Linked DNA regions of Homo sapiens: regions 1, 2 and 4 are each linked to region 3. The links come from fine-mapping of genetic effects on gene expression. A gene starts in region 3. Each other region holds a variant in brackets. All regions are shown on one strand. Distances are between the middles of the regions. Region 1 holds the start of LOC124902579 (small nucleolar RNA U13). Region 2 overlaps SEC61A2 (SEC61 translocon subunit alpha 2). Region 3 holds the start of DHTKD1 (dehydrogenase E1 and transketolase domain containing 1). Region 4 overlaps DHTKD1 (dehydrogenase E1 and transketolase domain containing 1).

Region 1 (5,000 bases), 74 kb before region 3:
TATTCCTTAATTTTTCTCCTTTATTTAAAACAATGTTTTTTCTTTTTTCTTTTCATGTCAGATGGGTAATGTTCCAACATCCTAACAAGGCTGGAGAGAGGCACATCTCACACACGAGCGTGAAGATCCAATCATCACATCTACGGACTACGAAAGCATCTAGTTTCCTATTACTTACAACAAAAGGAATCTAACACACTAATAAAACTCCACTTATAGAAGAAATACAAATGTTCCATAAAAACAGAAAACAATGTTCAAACTCACCAATCTATAAAGAAATCAAAATTAAATAACTGATGCCAGCTTTTACCTCTCTGACTAACAAAGACTAAAATACTAATAATATCCACTGTTGAAAGAGAAATGGTCATTCTCATATACTGTCGCTGAGAGTGTAAAATCAAACAACTGTTTTGGAAGATAATTTAGCTTTCTCTATCAAAAATTTCAGTATGCCTATCTTGTGACCCAACAGTTGAACTTCTAGAAATTCATTCTATCAAAAAGTTACAGAACGGTGTGATAGCCTTCATTGTAGCATTCTTTATAATGATATAAAATCGGGGGGAAAAAAACGTAATATATGACAAGAAAGGAACCTAGTGGCCTGCAGAAGTTTCCCATCTTCCTTAAAATGTGCTCCATCCAACGGTCTCCAAGCCCTTCATGATCTGACTTAGATACATCTGCAACATCAGGTCCCATCACTCCTCCCTCTTCTTTCATTTCTTCCACCCCACACTCACCTCCTCAATGTTCCTTTTTTTTTTGAGACAGGGTCTGGTTGTGTCGCCCCGGCTAGAGTGCAGTGGCGTGATCTCGGCTCACTGCAATCTCTTCCTCCCAGGCTCAAGCCATCCTCCCACCTCAGCCTCCCAAGTAGCTGGGACCACAGTACACACGACCACACCTGGCTAATTTTTGTGATTTTAGTAGAGATGGGGTCTCACTTTGTTGCCTAGGCTGGTCTGGACTCCTGACCTCAAGTGATCTTCCCGCTTCAGCCTCCCAAAGTGTTGGGATCACAGGCATGAGCCCCTGCGCCTGGCCCCTCCTCAATGATCTTTGAACACACCAAGCACAGGCTCACCTCAGGGCCTTTGCACTGGCTCTTCCCTAGAATATGCCTCCCTCAGGTCTTCATGTGGCCTCCTCTCTCACTTCCTGCAGCTGTCTTCAAAGATCACCTTCCTAGAGCACCTTCCCCACCCCAGGTACCTCCCCAAACAGCAAATATCAACTCCATGACAACTGGGACATTGTCTTGTTCACTGCTCTAATCTCGGCACCTTGCACAAAGGCTGACACACAATATGAACTCAGTAAGTATTTGTTGAATGAATGATCAAATAAATCACAGCGTATCCTTATAATGGAATAATAACATGGCCATTAATAGCTCATGTAAGATATTAAGTAAACAAAGTAGCAGAATAGTATATACAGGACATCTTACTTTTCAGTTATAAGAAGTATATAGATATATGTAAGTGAATGTATGTGCAAAGAAAAGGCCTCAATTGATAGTCACCAATCTACCAAATCCTCCAGAGCTCCCCTCAGAAGTGACACTTTTCTTTTCAGCTTCATATAAATCTGTATATAAATTGCTAGTGCATTTTTAAAATAATAAATCAATATTACCTTTATAACCTAAAAACATCAAAAAAAAATCTGCCATCGATTTAAAGTATGTCCAGGCTGGGTGCAGTGGCTCACACCTGTAATCCCAGCACTTTGAGGGAGGATGGCATGAACCCAGGAGTTCAAGACCAGCCTAGGCAACATGGCAAAACCTCACCTCTACAAAACTACAAAAATTAGCCAGGCATTGTGGCACGCACCAGTAGTCCCAGCTACTCAGGAGGCTGAAGTGGGAGGATCGCCTGAAAAAAGTGTTTCCAAAAAAGAGGCAACCACTGTTCCTAAATGTAAGAAACCTCACGACTGGTTGTACCCCTTGCTACTCTCACTGTCCAGCATCCTCAGCCACAATTTCCCAGATGAACAATGCTGCTTGAGGCTTCAGGCTCAGCTCCAGCTGAGCTCCCCGATTGGCTCACACACTGGACTCCCTTTTTTTTTGGAGGCAGAGTCTTACTCTGTTACCCAGGCTGGATTGCAGTGGTGCGATCTTAGTTCACTGCAACCTCCATCTCCCAGGTTCAAGCGATTCTCTTACCTCAGCCTCCTGAGTAGCTGGGATTACAGGTGCAT[A/T]CCCACACCTGGCTAATTTTTCTATTTTTAGTAGAGACGGGGTTTCACCATGTTGGCCAGGCTGGTCTCAAACTCCTGACCTCAGGTGATCTGCCCACCTTGGCCTCCCAAAGTGCTGGGATTACAGGGGTGAGCCACGGCGCCCCACCTGGACTCCAATTCCAATGTTATCTGGACATCACCTTCTTTGACACTGAAGATCAGGGTTTTCCAGTCCATGAAAACCCAAGAACAGATTTCTCTATGATTACATTAATCACACGGTGTTGTCATTATCTACATACTAGGCTTTTCTAGGCAATGATATCCTCCCCCTCCCTGTAGACATTGAAAACTCATTGCTAATCCACATGTTTCCATCTGTTTGCTGTGAGTAGGAGTGTGGAGACAGAAAAGACACGCATACCTCTATTGGAAGCCAGAATAACTCTCATCCAGTAGAAAGGATCTGCAGAATCTGATGACATGATTCCAAACAGTGGGATCTAAAATAGTACACAAAATAGTTTATGAAACTGTATTATATAAGGCTGAGGCATAAGAATCGCTTGAACCCAGGAGGCAAAGGCTGCAGTGAGCTGAGATCACGCCACTGCACTCCAGCCTGGGTGACAGGAGACTCTGTCTCAAAAAAAAAAAGTATAAAGTGTGCACTTAATTTACAAGGTATTCACTTACTGCTTGCAATACTTTTTTAAAAACTATTCTTATGTTCTTCAACAAAAACAAGCATATCTTCAAGGTAAAGCTGTTTATTAAAAAGAAAATAAAAAGAAAAACATTCCATCACATAGATAAGGGTTAATAAAAAAAATAATTAAAAGAACCAGAAAGTGAAAATAAAAATAAAAACAACAAATCATCACTTGGTGCATTCACTAGTAAATACATCGCTTATGGAGTGTGGTGGTACAACAATGTGAACATTCCTAATGTTACTAAACTGCACATCTAAAAATGATGAAGATGGCATATTTTCTATACTTTTACCACAATTTAAAAAACACTCCCACCAGTAGATTATGGAATATTATACCTGCCTGGTCGTAGAATGATTTTGCAAAGCTCTATATACTAAAGACAGCCAAGGTCACTCTTCTCAATGTAAGACTGAAGATGATATCCACAATGGAATATTACATGGCCACTAAAAATTATGCTTACTCAATCTGTAATAACATGGAAGAAGTACTTATGTCATAAAACTAAATATAAAATAGCAGTTCTAAACTAGGGGTGATTTTAGCCCCCACCCAAGACATTTGGCAATATCTAGAGACATTTTTGGTTGCCACAACTAGGGGCCAAGGTGGAGACCAAAGTGACTCCATCTTGGATGCTAATCTACCATGTTGACTTCTGCTCAACCCTGGTCTCAGGGATACCTCCTGATTCCTGCTTTATTTACAGTCCTTAGTGTAAGAACATGTACTCGCCATAAATCCTGCCCTGAGATCCAAGCAACGTTGATGCTATTACACAAATAACAGGCTGTGACACACAGCATTCTTGCATGTTCTGGAAAGCTGCCTTCAACTGTCCTGCACAAAGCACATACACCCCTTCCCTATGATAGATTAGCCCTGGGTCTGGGAGTAAGAATGCAGGCCTTTCCCTGTCTTACTGCTGCCCCAAACTATGCTTCTGTCTGTAAAATCACCCTCTACTGACAAACTGGATTTGTCTCCCTCATTCATTGGTTTCGCAGCTCCTTCAGTGTTTGCGGGTCATTTTGCATATATGGCCCTTTCACAGAACAGGGGGTGATGGCTAGTAGAGGCCAGAGTGCTGCTGAACATCCTGAAATACACAGGACAGACCCCTGGGGCAAGGAATCATCCTACCTCAAATTCAGGAGTGCGACTGTTAAGAAGCCCTAGTATAAAAACGAAGTACGAAAGTGTATATATAAACTATGACACTGTAAATAGATGCACAGAAAATCAAACTAGGAGGAGATATCTTTTTAAATCCTAAACAGCAATTATCTGTAGATGGTGGGATTATGGTTGACTTTTTCTTCTGTATTCTTTTCATATGTATCAAATTTTCCATAATGAGGACATTAACTTTTCATTAAAACAACAACAAAAAACAACTTAAGTTCAGATTGCTTCCTATTATATAACCCATATTTAGGATACAGCACTTGGCCTTAACCCCTCCTTAACCATGTGGGGATTAGACAAAGACATTTCAAAAACCTTCTCTATATGAAACTGATTTTTAAGAAAGTTACAAAAGATGCTGGCAGCAATTTTAAACAACTCACCTGGTCAACCTAAACCTCCCTGAAAGTCTGAATTTATCAGCTGGGTAATAAAACTGGTAAAGCATGAAACATGGATATTTTATGTGCACCTGGCAGCTGTAGACACTCTTCATTTAAAGTGAGAGGTGAGGGCCAGGCACGATGGCTCAGGCCTGTAACACCAGTATCTTGGGAGTCCAACGTGGGCACATCACTTGAGGCTAGGAGTTCAAGACCAGCCTGGCCGACATGGTGAAACCCCATCTCTACTAAAAATACAAAAATTAGCAGGGAGTGGCGGCTCGTGCCTGTAATCCCAGCTACTCAGGAGGCGGAGGTAGGAGAATCGCTTGAACCTGGGAGGCAGAGGTTGCAGTGAGCAGACATCGTGCCACTGAACTCCAGCCTGGGCGACAAAACAAGACTCCATCTCAAAAAACAAAACAAAAACAGCTGGGAGTGGTGGCTCACACCTGTAATCCCAGCACTTTGGGAGGTCGAGATGGGTGGATCATGAGGTCAGGAAATC
Region 2 (5,000 bases), 88 kb before region 3:
CACTGTACCTTCAAACTCCTGGGCTCAAGCAATCCTCCCAACTCAGCCTCCCAAGTAGCTAGGACTACAGGCACGTAACACTGTGCCCGGCTAGTTTTTAAGTTTTTTTGTAGAGATGGGGTCTCGCTATGTTGCCCAGACAGGTCTCCAACTCCTGGCCTTCAAGCTATCCTCTCTCCTTGTTCTCCCAAAGTGCTGGGATTACAGATGAGAGCCAACACGCCTGGCTAAAATCTATAATTTTAAGAGGGAAAATACCCCTTTGTTAGGTGACAGAATTTAAACCAATGAAAATTCAGTCCCACAGTAACTCACGCTTCAATAACAGCGTGGCTAGATGGCTTTAGAAAAAATTATGGGCCGAGTGTGGTGGCTCACGCCTGTAATCCCAGCAATTTGGGAGGCTGAGTCGGGCAGATCACAAGGTCAGGAGATCGAGACCATCCTGGCTAACACAGTTAAACCCCGTCTCTACTAAAAATACAAAAAATTAGCTGGGCGTGGTGGCGGGCGCCTGTAGTCCCAGCTACTTGGGAGGCTGAGGCAGGAGAATGGCATGAACCCGGGAGGCGGAGCTTGCAGTGAGCCGAGATCGTACCACTGCACTCCAGCCTGGGCGACACAGCGAGACTCCGTCTCAAAAAAAAAAAAAAGAAAAAAAAATTATGATGGGGGATGTATATGAGAATGTATAGGATTATATTACTAGCAGCACCGCTGTCTCTACCGTCTAGTTAATAGCATGCCTATCTCTAGCCCAGCTCATCACAAGCTGGCTTATTGCCATTCAGACCATGAAAAATGGAGGAGGCCTGGAGGCAGGGTGGGAGATAGGAAAGGTTAGGATGAGTCCAGTATCTCACATGTTAGCAGCAGCAAATAGCATTTTTTGTTTTTATTTTTTGGAGACGGAGTCTCGTTCTGTCGCCCAGGCTGGAGTGCAGTGGCGTGATCTCAGCTCACAGCAACCTCCATCTCCTGGGTTCCAGCAATTCTCCTGACTTGACCTCCTGAATGGTTGGGACTACAAGCACCTGCCACCACACCTGGCTAATTTTTGTATTTTTAGTGGAGACGGGGTTTCACCATGTGGCCAGGCTGGTCTCGAACTCCTGACCTCAGGTGATCCACCCACCTCAGCCTCCCAAAGTCCTGGGATTACAGGAGTGAGCCACCGCACCCAGCCAGCAAATAGCATCTTTTAGAAAGCATTATTGTAGACAATACTGGAATAAGATGACAAAATAGGAAATTACTTTTATGAAATCAACCACAATTTTAGCTTAAAAGGTCATTCAAATGAGATGTGAAAGTGCTTCCTAGAGAGCAAAATAATAAAAAGCGCTTGGGCAATCTTACTTCTGCAACACTTACCAGTTCTTCCAGATAAGTACTAAACTCTGCTATATAGGTAAGTGAATCTGAAAATACAGCAAATGCTCCAATGTCGACCTCATTCCATTAAAAATACAACCATGAAATGCAAATTATAATAAACTATAAATAATGTAAATAAACATAATACTCACGGCCCACTGTCCTAGTAAATTTACTAAAAAGTTGCCACTAAATCGAACAGACAGCATCTGGGAAATAACATACAGGTTGGACACCAGGGCCGACTGGAGGATGATGGGGATGTTGGAGGTGTAGAAGAGTTTGATGGGGTAGCTGCTGTACTGTCCTCGGTAACGGGCCGACTTAATGGGCAGATCAACGCGAAATCCCTAAAAAAGGAAACGGAGAGTAAGTGGGGGAGCCAGACACATTAAGAAAAGAACAGAGACCAGAGAGGGAAAACAAAGAACAGTGCGGGGGATGAAAAGACAATGCCGGCCGGGCACAGGGGCTCAGGCCTGTAATCCCAACACTTTGGGAGGCCGAGGCGGGCAGATCACGAGGTCAGGAGATCGAGACCATCCTGGCCAACGTGGTGAAATCTCATCTCTACTAAAATACAAAAAATTAGCTGGGTGTGGTGATATGCACCTGTAGTCCCAGCTACTCAGGAGGCTGAGACAGGAGAATCGCTTGAACCCAGGAGGCGGAGGTTGCAGTTAGCCGGGATTGCGCCATTGCACTCCAGCCTGGCGACAGAGCAAGACTCCATCTCAAAAAAAAAAAAAAAAAAATTAGCCGGGCGTG[G/A]TGGCACGTGCCTGTCATCTCAGCTACTCAGGAAGCTGAGGCAGGAGAATCACTTGAACTCGGGAAGAGGAGGTTAGAGTGAGCTAAGATCGCGCCACTGCACTCCAGCCTGGGCAACAAGAGCAAAACTCCGTCTCAGGAAAAAAAAAGAAAAGAAAAGACAATGCTAACAAAGACGTTCTGCCTTTTAAACTGTCGAGAGTCTGCTTCCTGCTGATGGGTCAAAACAAAAAACAAAAAAAGTACAGAGACTCCAATATTTCACACCTTAAAATCAGAGTCTGGAGACTCTAATTGCAAAATTTTATTTCCCTTGATCTTAAACCCTGACTTGTTAAACAACAGCATGTCAGATGGCATTCTCTTTAAGAGCAAAATAAAAATCTACATCCCACTTACTTTGGTGAAAAGGTTATACTTACTTGGAAATATATAACAACAGCAAACACAAAAACTGTAGCAATGAGGTTCATGAGATTGGGTAAGTTCTGCCGATAAAAAGCCTCCCGTAAAGCTCGGACTTTGTCCGTCCTGGTGGCCAACAAATGGAACAGAGCTATGACTGCACCCTCAAACTCAGTACCTGTAAAATCAAGACAGACACGACCTGTGGACTCATCGTCCAAAGCTGTCCCAAAGCTCAAACAACTAACCGTGAAAGTCCAGTATACAGCAGAAAATATGGGTCAAAAGAATTCGCCAATGTTTGCTTTATGATATAGCCATGTGAGCAGGTTCTACAAATATTTAGATCATTGAGGCAAATCTATGTTTTTATAGCATAAATCCGAAGTTTTCTCAAGAGACTATTCTTGAAGAAAACATACAACGTAAAATTTACCAAAGCAAAATTTCATTCATAGAGATTTGCCTCTCCTCTACTTCAGGGAAGGGAGAGAGTGTTTTTAGGAAAAATAAACAGCAGCGAAGCAGAGCAGAGATGTCAGAATAAGAGACAGATGTCACTCTATCGAGCCTGCCTCGAAGTTTACCGCACCAAGAACATTAATCATCATTACAGTTTTCTTAAGGCTGGGATCAGAGTTTAGGTATTAACCACTTAGGACAGTATCTGTTAGAAGTGGAGATGAGGAAGGGGAAAGAGAGAATGAAATATTTCAAAACTTTGGTGCTATTACAAAGCCAATTAGAAGAGCAGCAGAGTAGGAGTGCTCCAGGTGGATTCAATGAACAACAGTCTTTTCATTTGAAAAATCTAAAATCCACTACCTTTTTATCCCCCTACGGATGCTGAAATCAGTCAAATAAATGACTTCTGCAGCAATGCCTTAAGCAAGGTTAACAAAAGAAATTTTGAAAATCTGTTTGCAACCACTGAAATTTTAAATAAGCAGAGGCTAAAATTTTGATACTATTCTCTCTGAGGTAGTATTGCTTACTCCACAAATCTCTGCTCATTAAGTTTTGAAGAATTCGCATTCCTTATCCCCTAGGAGAGCAAACCAGAACGGCTCTAGGCATGTACTGCGACACGATGGGTTTGTTCCCAGCACACATCCAGCAAAACGCGTGCAGTTGCAGTCGCTGTGCGATGTACCTCTGCCAGTGTTAATGGTAGTGGGACTAAAGGCCTTCCAGACAATGGTCTCACAGATGTTGGTGGCAATAAAGAGGGAAATCCCAGACCCCAAGCCGTAACCCTTCTGTAGCAGCTCATCTAACAGCAGCACAATCAAACCAGCAACAAACAACTGTGGGGAAAGAAATGCAAGTAAGCGGAAGCAAGAACAAACTCAAGAAAGGGGGAGAGGAACACCATTGGCTATTTCCAAGCTAGGGGCGTTTTGAATATTAAGGCCTGATCGTTGCAATCTCACTGTGATGACCAACTGCATCTTTTGGCCTGCTTTCATTTACTCAGGCCAATCTAGAACAGTAAGAGGACTGGAAATACTGTTGTATTATAAAGCAGACATTTCAACTTTTAAAGTCTATTTACACTTATCTGAATAGTTTCTTTTGCAATGTTTAAATAAAGCCTGTTTGAAAAGCACACTGAAACAAAAAATGATCACAGTATTCTAGAATTTATGACAGCAAGAAACTGAAAACATCCCAAATACCTCCAAGGAAGTAAAAAGTCAGATGAATTCTGGTATAATAGCAAGATGGAAATGTACACTGCCATCAAAGGATAAGTCTAAGGGCTGTGTTGATCCTTTGAAAAAAGCATTATATATATTATATATATGTATACTCTATAAAATGTGTACAGAATAAAAAACTAGAACACAAATATGTACTCAAATACGTACTCGAGCAGCAATGTAAAAATGCATTCTATACACATAGTGACAAAGATTGAATGTAAATTTGAAGACGGTTAAGGTTAAGCTCATATTGTTTTTAAAAATGAAAGCATACTGACTTTAATTTATGGGATATTGAAAATTCTGAACTTGCTTCTTGGAGAAGACATTCCTGTAAAAGTATGCATTAATTAAAAACAGTCCCTAGCCCTTCAAGTGACCTCCTCAGTCATATGACCCCTTCCCTGCACTCAAATAACCTAATCAAGACAGGAAGAAAATATGCTTCCATGCCCCCAACCTCACACATGTCCCCACTTTAAAGACACCCTCCGGCAGAAGTGAGGAAGTCACTTCCATTCCTCCCAGCTCTCAAGCCGCCCACCCTCATTTTGTACTCACTTTATCCAATATCACCTGCTGGAAGAGCGACCAAAGTAACCACATGAGACCATTTTAGGCATGCTTACCTTACACAGTGTTGTTTTTCTCCTTAACTGCCATTTCAGTAGTTGGACAGAGCCTAACTTGTCTATTTACAGGCTTTTAGTCTGAGTTTCAATGGGCAGGAGAAAGGGTACGATT
Region 3 (5,000 bases):
TGAACCCGGCGCACGCTGAAGTGAGCTGTGACTGCACCACTGCACTCCAGACTAGGTGACATAGAAAGATCTCATCTCAAAAAATAAAAATAAAACACGGTAATAGTTTAATATGTTGCCTAACATATAAAGATACTTGATAATTAATGTTACGTTTGCACATACAAAATGCAAATGTACTATATGTCACAAATAAATTGCGTATATAGAACCCTCTTTTCATTCCTTAGGAAGTATAAATTATTTGGGGCTGGACACGGTGGCTCGCGCCTATAATCCCAACACTTTAGGGGGCCGAGGCAAGCATTTCACCTGAGGACAGGAGTTCGAGACCAGCCTGGGCAACATGGCAAGACCCTGTCTCAAGTGATCTGTCTGTCTCGGCCTCCCAAAGTGCGGGGATTACAGGCGTGAGTCACTGTGCCTGGCCCCACGTCTGCACCACACCCAGCTAATTTTTGTATTTTTGCTAGAGACGAGGTTTCACCATGTTGGCCAGGCTAGTTTTGAACTCCTGACCTGGTGATCCGCCCACCTCGGCCTCCCAAAGTGCAGGGATTACAGGCATGAGCCACCGCGCCCGGCCTAATAAATAAAATTTAAAAAATAAAAACTAAAAAGATTTGATGTGAAATATGAGGTGAAAAAGATAAAGGTGGATTGCTCATCTCAGATTACTATACCTCTGTGGCAGAGACTGCTACGATTCCTAACTTCCATTCTGAACCCTCTCTTTGATAGTAATAGAGAGCCCAGTATATGGCCACCCAGAACAAAGAGCCACCTCCCAGCCTTCCCCATAACCTGGTGGCCATGTGACTAAGTTTTGGACAATGGGAACGTAGCAGCAATGTATGCAACTTCTGGGTCATGACCGTAAGGGGAAGGAAAGAAGATATCCCTTCTCTTTGTATATCACAGCACCTGAACTCTTCCAATCTAATACAGAATTTGGTACCAGAGGTGGGTTGCTGCCCTAACAGAGCCTAAAAATATATATGGCATTGGATTAGCAGCCAGGCAATGGGTACCAAGGACACAGGTATTTCCACCTAGAAAGCTGATGGGCAGTGTTATGCTACAGGACAAAACATTTGGTTTTTGTCCTGTAGGACAGGACTGAGGCAGACTACATGCCCTTGAAGCCTGTAGCTCAGGAGCGTATGTTCATTGTATCTTGTCACTTTCAGGAAGGCCCAAGAAGAAAGATGAGGTCAAGTTGGAGCTCCCTAATGAGCAAGTAGACAGGAAGGGGAATTCGGCTCTGCAAAAAGGAGGTTCCCTCTTGGCCAGGCACGGTGGCTCATGCCTGTAATCCCAGCACTTTAGGAGGCCAAGGCCAGTGGATCACTTCAGGTCGGGAGTTCAAGACCAGCCTGGCCAACATGGTGAAACCCCATCTCTACTAAAAATACAAAAATTAGCTGGGCATGGTGGCAGGTGCCTGTAATCCCAGCTACTCGGAACACTGGGGCAGGACAATCGCTTGAACCCAGAAGACAGAGGTTGCAGTGAGCCAAGATCGTGCCACTGCACTCCAGCCTGGGCGACAAAGCCAGACTCCATTTTAGGATTAAAAAAAGAGAGAGAGACAGAGATATGAGGTTTATTTTAAATGCCCTCCGAAGTGAAGAGCAAAATATTGAAGTTCTAGTGTGTGATTGATGGAACATTCCAAGGTCAGGTGCCCAGATGCCGAAGGGGATCTTCAACATTAATCTAATGATCAGATCAAAGATGCCAAATGATTTTCCTCTAATAAGCAATCTGTACTTATCTTCTACTCCGTGAGGATAAATAATGATACAATAATTTTGGAGCGTAAACCAAATACTCAAAATTAGTCTCGCAAATGAGCATGCAACAGAAGTTCCAAAAGCTGATATTCATGACTGTTAATTCATTAAAACCACCAGCACATATCAAGGTGTCAATAGAGTGGCTAAAAGGAAAAGAAAGAAACCCCACCAGCACATAGTTCCAAATTCAGCAGAGTTAAGAGTTAAACTCTGAAATTAAAGTAACAGACTAGCTACAAGGAGACAAATACATAATAAATATCATGCTGTCTTCCAAGACTGGAACTAACTGCCCACTTCTCCCAAGCAATGCAGTCTTGGACCCCCCCACCTGCTCACATAAAAGAAGCCTCAGAGATGGTCCTGGAAATGTATCCTTGGGAGACCTTAAAACTTTACTTCTCCCACAGCTCCGCCTCATTAAAGAGCTGGTTTTCTAGGCTGGGTGCAGTGGCTCAGCCTGTAATCCCAACACATTGGGAGGCCGAGGCTGCAGGATCAGCTTGAGCTCAAGAGTTCAAGACCAGCCTGGGCAACATGGTGGGACCCCATCTCTACTAAAAATGAAAAAAAAAAAAAAAAAAAAAAAAAAGCTGGGCGTGGTCATCCCTCTGTGTCCCCAGCTACTCGGGACGCTGAGGTGGAAGGATAGCCTGAGCCCAGGAGTTCGAGGCTGCAGGGAGCTGTGGTCGCAGCACTGCACTCCAGCCTGGGCCACAGAGCGAGACTCCGTCTCAAAAAAAAAAAAAAAAAAAAAAGGAAACAAAAAGAGAAAGAAAAAAAGAGTTTCTCACACGTTTCCAACAAAGGAAAGAAAAGCCCTTCCGAAACCAGGTCCGGACCAGCAAGATGGGAAGACCACCCAAGCGTGGACCTCAAAGATCCTCAGTTACAGAGGATGGACGGGGGATGACCCCAACACTGAGCACCCACACCTACCCTCTGCTCCCCTCACCTCCCCCTCCTCCCCACCGGCCGCGCGTTCAGGCCGGCAGCCGGTTCCCCGACCCCGACACCCCACCGCAAATCGGCCAGGGGAGGCTTCTGCGTCCCAGCCCCCGCTCCCACCGCCCGGGCCCCATCCCCGACCTGGGGGGCGCTCCAGGGCGCCCTGGGGCTCGCGGCTCTCGGGCTTCCTCGGCCGGTAGCCGTAAACGCCCCGCTCGGTCTGGTAGCCACGCCAGAAGAGAGGGAGAGCCCGGCCGAGGCCCCGTCGTGCTGCTGCCGCAGTAGCAGAGGCCATGTTCACCAGATGTCCCGGCCAGCATGCTAAGGCGGGAGCCCGAGGGGATCCCACCGGCCCTGGTAAATCCGGGACTCGTCAGAGGCGGCCGGAGCCCCGCCCCCAGACAACGCCCCCGCGCCTGATTGGCCGACGGGCCGGACCCTGGAAGCCAATCCGTGGCAGCGGCACTCACAGCGAAGCGACGCCCAGGATTGGGGCGGGCTTCCAGGGCGGTTCCGGCGGCTGAGACCGCCCTGCTCCACCGCAGGGCGGGGCAAGTAAGTGTTCCGCGGGGCGGCACCTGCTCCCAGTACGAAACAGGATGTAGCTGCAGCGCCTGTAGTCTCCCGCCAGGAGTGTTTACCCATCACGCCTCTGCCCAACCGCATAGACACAGTCTAGGGTGTCTGTTACAGAAAGGACAAATTAGCCACAGGGTGGATAGGAAATGGCTAGGACTGAGACCAAGGGACGCAAAAAGCAAAGGTTACTTAGCGCAGCTACAAAATCAATACCCCTAATTTTTTTGTTTTCTTAAGAAACATTAACAGAGGCCGGGCGCGGTGGCTCACGCCTGTAATCCTAACACTTTGGGGGGCCACAGCGGGAGGATCATCTGAGGTCAGGAGTTTGAGACCAACCTGTCCAACATGGCGAAAACCCATCTCTACTAAAAATACAAAAATTAGGTCGGGCGCGGTGGTTCACGCCTGTAATCCCAGCACTTTGGGAGGCCGAGGCGGGCGGATCACCTGAGGTCGGGGGTTCGAGACCAGTCTTACCAACGTGGAGAAACCTCGTCTCTACTAAAAATACAAAATTAGCCAGGCGTAGTGGTGGGTGCCTGTGGTCCCAGCTACTCGGGAGGCTGAGACAGGAAAATCGCTGGAACCCGGGAGGTGGAGGTTGCGGTGAGTTGAGATGGCGCCATTGCACTCCAGCCTGGGCAACAAGAGCGAAACTCCGTCTCAAAAAAAACAGAACAAAAACAAACAAACAAACGAACAAAAAAAAAAAAACAAAACAGGCTGCAGTGGCTCATGCCTGTAATCCCAACACTCTGGGAGGCCCTCTGGGAGGCCAAGGAGGGCGGATCACGAAGTCAGGAGTTCGAGACCATCATGGCTACTATGGTGAAACCCCGTCTCTACTAAAAATACAAAAATTAGCCGAGTGTGGTGGCGGGTGCCTGTAGTCCCAGCTACTCGGGAGGCTGAGGCAGAAGAATCGCTTAAACCCTGGAGGCAGAGGTTGCAGTGAGCCAAGATCGTGCCCACTGCACTCCAGCCTGGGCGACAGAGCGAGACTCTGTCTCACAAACAAACAAAAAACATTAAGAGAGAAAGAAGGAAATAGGGTAAAGGGAGCAGGGAAGAAAGGGATAAGAGTCAAAAGAAACTGGACATGAACGATTAGTTGGTCTGTCTCTGAGTGAGTTTCCCAAATGATTTTTTTTCTGTGGCTTACTTTTAACTTTGCCAGTATGGTAGGAGAGAGAGTCTGCATCCTTACCTGGTTAGTCATCCTTCGTTCCAGTAAGCTGTGCAGCTATACCCCAAACTCCTAGGAATATTATACATACAAGCCCAAGACATCCTCCTTCTTACTCATTCAACCAGTACACTCATAAAGCACTCTGCTGGGTTACAAAGATTAATAAGGCACAGTTTCTGCCCTTAGTTCCCAGTCTAGCTGTAGATAGAACTCAGCACACAGGATGATAGATTATATAATGTAGGCACATGTAAGTGCCCCCTGCAAGCACAGGAGCGTCATCCAGCACAGCTACTGTAGCTGGGACCCCTTAGGTCCACACTTTGGTGGCCTCCCCATCTTGCTAGTTTGGACCTGGTTTTGCAAGGGCTTGTCTTTTTTTTCCTTTTTTTTTTTTTTTTTTTTTTTTGAGACGGAGTCTCGCTCTGTCGCCCAGGCTGGAATGCAGTAGGGCAATCTCGGCTCACTGCAACCTCCATCTC
Region 4 (7,729 bases), 52 kb before region 3:
GCATCCGCTACCACGCCCGGCTAATTTTTTGTATTTTTAGTAGAGACAGGGTTTCACCCTCTTGGCCAGGCTGGTCTCAAACTCCTGAGCTCAGGTGATCCACCCGCCTTGGCCTCCCAAGGGGCTGGGATTACAGGCATGAGCTACCGCGCCTGGCCAAAATCCACTTTTTAAGCTCCCATGTGAGTGAGAATATCCAAGTTTTGTCTTTCTGTGCTTGACTTACTTCACGTAACATGATGACTTCCAGTTCCATCCATGTTGCTACAAATGACAAGATTTTATTTTTTTTAAATGGCTGAATAATATTCCATGGTGTATATGTAACTTATTTTCTTTAATATCCAAATACATATAAGAAAAATGTAGGTGAAGCTTTTGGAACCTAAAGACTCAACAGTCTTGATCCTTAATCTGTGACTTCCTTCCAGTGTAATCTTTTTTTTTTTTTTTTTGGGCGGGGTAACCCTTTCATTTCTTCAATTTTGTAAAAGGGCCAGGTGTGGTGGCTCACGCCTGTAATCTCAGCACTTTAAGAGGCCAAAGCGGCCTAACGCTGACACAGAATCACTTGAACTAGAAAGGCGGAGGTTGCAGTGAGCCAGGATCGCACCACTGCCCTCCAGCCTGGGCCACAGAGCGAGATTTGGTCTCAAAAGAAAAAAAGAAAACCTTAGTAACTTTATACTTGTATCTTATTTATATCTATTATTTATATCTATCTATGCCATTTTAATGTTCAATGAGGACTAAACCTTAAATTGGGTATTCAAGAAGTAGAAATAGTAGCAACCATGGAAAAATGTTAGTTTTGTCTGAAATGACAAATTATTCTTAGTAAAATAAAAAATTTTTTAGTGAGAATAATAACTATTTTGCTTAGCTTTTCTGTGTCTTGCATACACATGCTATTTGGGAAAAATACTATGAAGCTTAGACATCTTTAGACTGACTATATTACCTTTGAAATTTTATTATTTTTTAATAATTCCTTGGTTGACAATAAAAATACTATCCCTTTTACACTTTTTTTTTTTTTTTTTGAGATGGAGTCTTGCTCTGTTGCCCATGCTGGAGTAGTTCAAGTGATTTCCTGCCTCAGCCTCTCAAGTAGCTGGGACTACAAGCATGCGCAACAACGCCTGGCTGATCTTTGTATTTTTTAGTAGAAACAGGCTTTCACCAGGTTGGCCACACTGGTCTCAAACTCCTGACCTCAGGTGATCTGCCCACCTTAGCCTCCCAAAGTGCCGGGATTACAAGCATGAGCCACCACGCCTGGCCTACTAAATTTTTAAGGGAAAAAAAGTAATGAGTATTTGATTTGGAATTCCTCAAATGGTCCCTCCCTGCAAGGGAATGTAAAATGCTGATCCATGTTGCAGTAGTGATTGAGAGTAGAAAGGTTAAGCCAACAGAAGACACATTTCATGACTCGAGTTAGAGAAGACATAAAAAGAAACCATGAACAGACTGTGAGGTGTAAAATTAGAAATTTGGAGAGATCCACCAGTCACAGTGGCTCACGCCTGTAAACCCAGCACTTTGGGAGGCCAAGGTGGGCGGATCATGAGGTCAGGAGATCAAGGCCATCCTAGCTAACATGGTGAAACGCCATCTCTGCTAAAAATACAAAAAACTGGCTGTGGCACGTACCTGTAGTCCCAGCTACTCGGGAGGCTGAGGCAGGAAAATCTTTTGAACCCAGGAGGTGGAGGTTGCAGTGAGCTGAGATCGCACCACTCCAGCCTGGGCGACAAAGTGAGACTCTGTCTCAAAAGAAATTCGGAGAGATTTAAAGTAACCTTTTATTTTTTGAGACAGAGTCCCGCTCTGTCACCCAGGCTGGAGTACAGTGGTGCAATCTCGGCTCACTGCAACCTCCGCCTCCCGAGATCAAGTGATTCTCCTGCCTCAGCCTCCCAAGTAGCTGGGATTACAGGCATGCACCA[C/T]CATGCCCTGCTAATTTTTATATTTTTAGTAAGAGACGGGGTTTAGCCATGTTGGCCAGGCTAGTCTCGAATGCCTGACCTCAGGTGATGCACCCATCTTGACCTCCCACAGTGCTGTGATTACAGGCGTGAGCTACCACGCCCAGCCTAAACTAACCTTTTACAAAGATCTAATCTTCCATCTCATTTTTGTGCTTAGACTTTTGAAATCTTTTAATTCAAGAAGTCCAGGAGTCCTGAGGAAAAAAAATGACAATGTGCTTTTATTTTTTTTCTTGTTAAAAAAAAACAACATTGGTAAATCGTTTTCATTAAATAGACCTTTGTGATTTTACTGATTTACATGAGTGGCACTAAATTACATGATTTATAAGGCTTGACACAGGAAGGATACACTGAGGTATATGGTAAGAAAAGGGATATGAATACTAGAGAAATGTTAAATTGATAACTAAGGCACACTTTCGGATGTGAATCATAAATCTACCACTGTGGCTAGAACAGCCTATATGTACATGGATTCTGAAAGACATGATCAGTTGCTGGTAAAAGTAGAGAGGGCCTGGGCTTCTGCCAGTCCCCTGGTACTTCCCACACCACTTCAGAGAAAAAGCATCATGACACAAGCACAGTAGATGGTAGAGGCCCCCAGCACTGAGTCAGGTGAAGCTACATGGTTCGCTGTTTAGTTACGTTTCCAGTACTTGGTTTAATTTCACAGTGAGGGAGTCGGTTGGTGATCTCTAAGAAATCCCCAAGCACCTGGTGTTGGGAAAGTCCCTCAAATAAAGAAGTGTTCTTTTCTTTTTTTTTCCTCTCTCTCTCTTTCTATTTATTTATTTTTTGAGATGGAGTCTTGCTCTGTCACCCAGACTGGAGTGCAGTGGCAGGATCTCAGCTCACTGCAACCTCCACCTCCTGGGTTCAAGCGATTCTCCTGCCTCAGCCTCCCGAATAGCTGGGATTACAGACACCCACCACCACGCCCAGCTAATTTTTGTATTTTTAGTAGAGACGGGGTTTCACTATGTTTTGTCAGGCTGGTCTCGAACTCCCAACCTCAGGTGATCCACCCATCTCAGCCTCCCAAAGTGCTGAGATTACAGGCGCAAGCCGCAGCGCCCAGCCAAGAAATGTTCTTTAAACATCACAAATAAACATACTGCATCAGGGACTTGTAGGGACAAGACTGATTAACCAGGGGCTGAAATCCCCATATCAGAAACCCCAGACAGTTAAAAATAGTAAGATATCACTGTAAGAACAATTTAAAGAAAAACAAGTTTACGGCAAAACAGACTACAAATCAATTTCATTATAACTAAAACTCCTTAATTTAAAAATACAGTACTAGAAGATCATCCACCCAGAGATTTGTATTTAGTAGGACCTAGATTTGCTAGTGTTGGGGAGACACTTCATACAGTGACTGGAAAGCAGCACCAGAGATTACATAAAATGAAAATATTAGTACTGCCACAGGACTTTCAAAAAGGAGGGGGAAAATTAATGAAAGTGACATGCATCAAACAAATCAAGAGGCAGTGTTGAGGTCATCTCCACGGAGCTGTAAACTCAGAAGTGTTTCCTGGTCATATATGGTCAATTAGGGTCAAGTCTGAAATCATCTAGATAATGACCTAGTTTTCCAGCTCACTCAGAGCTAAAATCCATAACACTATCATACTTTCCTTTTAATTTATGAGATGGAGTCTTGCTCTGTCGCCCAGGTTGGAGTACAGTGGCGCCATTTCGGCTCACTGCAACCTCTGCCTTCCAGGTTCAAGCAATTCTCCTGCCTCAGCCTCCGGAGTAGCTGAGACTACAAGCGCATGCCACCACACCCAACTAATTTTCATATTTTTAGTAGAAACGGCGTTTCACCACGTTGACCAGGCTGGTCTTGAACTCCTGACCTCAGGTGATCCAGCCGCCTAAGCCTCCCAAAGTGCTGGGATTACAGGCGTGAGCCACTGCACCCAGCCATCACACTTTCTTTTTTTGTTATTGTTTTTCTTTTGTTGTTTTCCTATTTCTACCATCACACCTTCAAGGATAAATTTGCTGGTTGCATTCACATATTCATAACCAGTTCCCCTGGTTATTCCACCTATTGCAGATTAAATCACGTATATCAATCCCAACATCTTAGAGGAATACAGTCTTTTCATGTTACCCAACAGAGGGGTTGAGAGAGTGGAGGAAGGAGGCCTCTTTTAATGGGTTTTTTTTTTTTTTTTTTTGAAACGCAGTCTTGCTCTGTCACCCAGGCTGGACAGCAATGGTGTGATCCTGGCTCACTGCAACCTCCGCCTCCCAGATTCAAGCGATTCTCTTGCCTCAGCCTCCCAGGAAGCTGGGATCACAGGTGCCCACCACCACACCCGGCTATTTTTTGTATTTTTAGTAGAGGCGGGGTTTCACCGTGTTGGCCAGGCTGGTCTCGAACTCCTGACCTCAGGTGATCCACCAGCCTTGGCCTCCCAAAGTGCTGGGATTACAGGCATGTGCCACCCCACCCGGCCTTAATGGCCATTTTCTTAAAGAGAAATAGTGTTTCTTCAAAAGTCATCATCAAGCGAAGGTCTTGGCGAGGATATCTTCATGCTGGTGCAAGTGAACTGTGCCAATTCCTACAGCGGGTACTGGCAAAGGGGGCCGGCCCACCAGACGGAGCTATAAGTGCAGCAGAGAAGAAATAAAATGACATTTTGACTAGATCAGAGCTCTGCTTAGTTCCAACAAGACAGTGCATGTATTTCTCTTAGCTTGTTTAACCATAAATCACCTCTTTCAAATAATGAGTTACGCAGAAGAGATTAGAGGGACAGGGCTCCGTGCCTCAATGCCTGTAATCCCAGCGCTTTGGGAGGCCGAGGTGGGCGGATCACGAGGTCAGGAGATTGAGACTATCCTGGCTAACATGGTGAAACCCCGTCTCTACTAAAAATACAAAAAAAATTTAGCTGGGTGTGGTGGCGGGCGCCTGTAGTCCCAGCTACTTGGGAGGCTGAGGCAGGAGAATGGCGTGAACCCGGGGGGCGGAGCTTGCAGTGAGCTGAGATTGCGCCACTGCACTCCAGCCTGGGCAACAGAGTGAGACTCTGTCTCAAAAAAAAAAAAGAAAGAAAGAAAGAAAAGAAAAACAACATGCACACAAAACACAAAACACTACCAGAGAAAACGTGTGATTACCTTGCAGGCCAGCTGCTTTTCAAACCTTGGAGAAACAAACGACCACGGACCCATGTTCTGAGGTTCCTCCTGACTCCAAATATGATCTATGAGAGAAGAAATTCTTTCAGCACCTCAAGTAGACACATGCAGACGGTCCCCAATTTACTATGATCCCACCTACGATGGAGTTTTCAACTTTACGATGGTGTGAAAGGGATTCACATTCACTAGAAACTGTACTTCAAGTACCCATACAACAGTTCTGTTTTTCACTGTTGGTACAGTATTCGATAAATTATCTGAGATATTCAACACTTCATTATGAAATGTAATAGATTTTGTGTTAAATGATTGTGCCCAACGATAAGCTAATGTGAGTGTTCTGAGCATGTTTAAGGCAGGCTAGGCTAAGCTGTGTTTTGTAGTTTAGGTGTATTCAATGCATTTTCTTTTTTCTTTTTTAAGTTCTGGGGTACACATGCAGGATGTGCAGGTTTGTTATGCAGGTAAATGTGTGCCACGGAGGTTTGCTCCTCAGATCATCCATCACCTAGGTATTAACCCAGCATCCATTAGCTGTTCTGCCTGATGCTCTCCCTCCTCCCCCATGACCCTCGGACAGGCCCCATATATGTACCAAATTTTCTTTCTTTTTTTTTTTTTTTTTTTTGAGACGGAGTCTCGCTCTGTCGCCCAGGCTGGAGTGCAGTAGCGCAATCTCGGCTCACTGCAAGCTCCGCCTCCCGGGTTCACGCCATTCTCCTGCGTCAGCCTCCCAAGTAGCTGGGACTACAGGCGCCCGCCACCACGCCCGGCTAATTTTTTTGTATTTTCAGTAGAGACGGGGTTTCACTGTGTTAGCCAGGATGGTCTTGATCTCCTGACCTCGTGATCCGCCCACCTCGGCCTCCCAAAGTGCTGGGACTACAGGCGTGAGGCACCGCGCCCCGCCTGTACCAAATTTTCATGTTTTTGTGTCTTTTTTTGACACAGAGTCTTGTGCCCAGGCTGGAGTGCAGTGGCACAATCTCGGCTCACTGCAACCTCCGTCTCCCAGGTTCAAGCAATTCTTCTGCCTCAGGCTCCCAAGGAGCTGGGACTACAGGCGCCCGCCACCACGCCCGGCTAATTTTTTGTACTTTTAGTAGAGACGGGGGTTCACCGTGTTAGCCAGGATGGTCTCAATCTCCTGACCTTGTGATCCACCCACCTCAGCTTCCCAAAGTGCCAGGATTACAGGTGTGAGCCACCGCGCCCGGCCCAAGATTCAATTTTCTAATAACCCCCACCACATCTTTTCATTTAAAAGAGCTGAAATGGGTTTTGGGTATCTGAACATCAAAACCCAAATGAGAACAACCTCTTACCTTTAACATGTTTGTATTTGCTCATCTCTTGCTGTAAAGAATCCAACGGGAAGGGGCAGAGTTCCTCTACTCGGATGATGGCAAAGTCATGCTTCTTGGCCCCCAGAGATTCTCTTTGTTTCACCAGGGAGTAGAAATGTTTGCCGGAGCAGAACACGAGGGTCTTAACCCTGTTGGACAGAAAAGGAACAATAGGGTGGGGGAGAAATTTTTTAAAGTAAGAATTACGTCAGAAGAGGCCAGGTGCAGTAGCTCACGCCTGTAATCTCAGCACTTTGGGAGGCCAAGGCGGGCGGATCACGAGGTCAGGAAATCAAGACCATCCTGGCTAACACGGTGAAACCCTGTCTCTACTAAAAATACAAAAAATTAGCCGGGCGTACTGGCGGGCACCTGTAGTCCCAGCTACTCGGGAGGCTAAGGCAGGAGAATGGCGTGAACCCGGGAGGCGGAGCTTGCAGTGAGCCAAGATCGTGCCACTGCACTCCAGCCTGGGCGACAGAGCAAGACTCAACCTCAAAAAAAAAAAAAAAGAGAATTATGTCAGAAGAAACGGGAGACAGTGCAGATTTAAAGTCCTCATGAACAAGGTGGTGGGGGTCTCTGCAGCCGAGTTCAGTCACAGGCTATTCCTGGGGACCCTTCTTCAGCAACATGCGCCTACAAAGTCCACTTTCCCACCCACACTTAACTCATACTCCACTGACTTAAAGGACTTAGGATAGAGGAGGCCAGGCATGGTGGCTCACGCCTGCAATCCCAGCACTTTCAGAGGCTGAGGTGGGTGGATAACCTGAGGTCAGGAGTTCGAGACCAGCCTGGCCAACATGGTGAAACCCCATCTCTACTAAAAATAAAAAAATTAGCAGGGTGTGGTGGCGGGCACCTGTAATCCCAGCTACTTGGGAGGCTGAAGCACAAGAATCACTTGAATCCGGGAGGCGGAGGTTGCATAGAGCTGAGATTGCACCACTGCCCTCCAGCCTGGGCAATAGAGCCAGACTCAGTCTCAAAAATAAATAAATAAATAAATAAATAAATAAATAAATAAATAAAAATAGGAGAGGGGAGATCTGCATCACCTGTGATCTCTTAATGTGAACTACTTTTCCCATTAATTAAAATTCTGCCACAGAATATGAAAACAGAGATACATATCTTACTTTTTTGGATCCACAGATGAATCACCAATGACCGGGTTAAATGTTGTTCCTGGTGCCATTTCTTGAAGAG

What was found. PIP is the estimated chance that this variant, and not a neighbour inherited with it, causes the effect. A credible set is the group of variants that fine-mapping cannot tell apart.
Region 1: its variant is the best candidate, but not a certain one, in a credible set for the expression of DHTKD1 in whole blood (INTERVAL, PIP 0.61).
Region 2: its variant is the best candidate, but not a certain one, in a credible set for the expression of DHTKD1 in whole blood (TOPMed, PIP 0.87).
Region 4: its variant is the best candidate, but not a certain one, in a credible set for the expression of DHTKD1 in monocytes (BLUEPRINT, PIP 0.68).

Annotation. Positions count from the first base shown.
Region 1 is chr10:12,140,822-12,145,821 of GRCh38, reverse strand. SEC61A2 (SEC61 translocon subunit alpha 2) reads right to left here. Exons shown (of 12, transcript NM_018144.4): 4 at 2,627-2,705. It overlaps LOC124902579 (small nucleolar RNA U13), which reads right to left and starts at 159; the gene lies at 56-159. The variant A/T (reference allele first, on the strand shown) is at 2,221.
Region 2 is chr10:12,154,635-12,159,634 of GRCh38, reverse strand. SEC61A2 (SEC61 translocon subunit alpha 2) reads right to left here. Exons shown (of 12, transcript NM_018144.4): 7 at 3,704-3,857; 8 at 2,568-2,728; 9 at 1,530-1,727. Among named protein-coding and RNA genes, the nearest start is that of MIR548AK, 26 kb to the right of the region's middle. The variant G/A (reference allele first, on the strand shown) is at 2,146.
Region 3 is chr10:12,067,076-12,072,075 of GRCh38, reverse strand. DHTKD1 (dehydrogenase E1 and transketolase domain containing 1) reads right to left here and starts at 3,122. Exons shown (of 17, transcript NM_018706.7): 1 at 2,889-3,122. The coding sequence starts at 3,042. RefSeq lists silencers at 2,787-2,946, 3,047-3,096.
Region 4 is chr10:12,117,686-12,125,414 of GRCh38, reverse strand. It overlaps DHTKD1 (dehydrogenase E1 and transketolase domain containing 1), which reads right to left. Exons shown (of 17, transcript NM_018706.7): 14 at 7,660-7,729; 15 at 6,497-6,666; 16 at 5,148-5,233; 17 at 2,194-4,628. The coding sequence ends at 4,527. Among named protein-coding and RNA genes, the nearest start is that of SEC61A2, 8.1 kb to the left of the region's middle. RefSeq lists enhancers at 2,697-2,786, 3,527-3,576, 3,637-3,776. The variant C/T (reference allele first, on the strand shown) is at 1,953.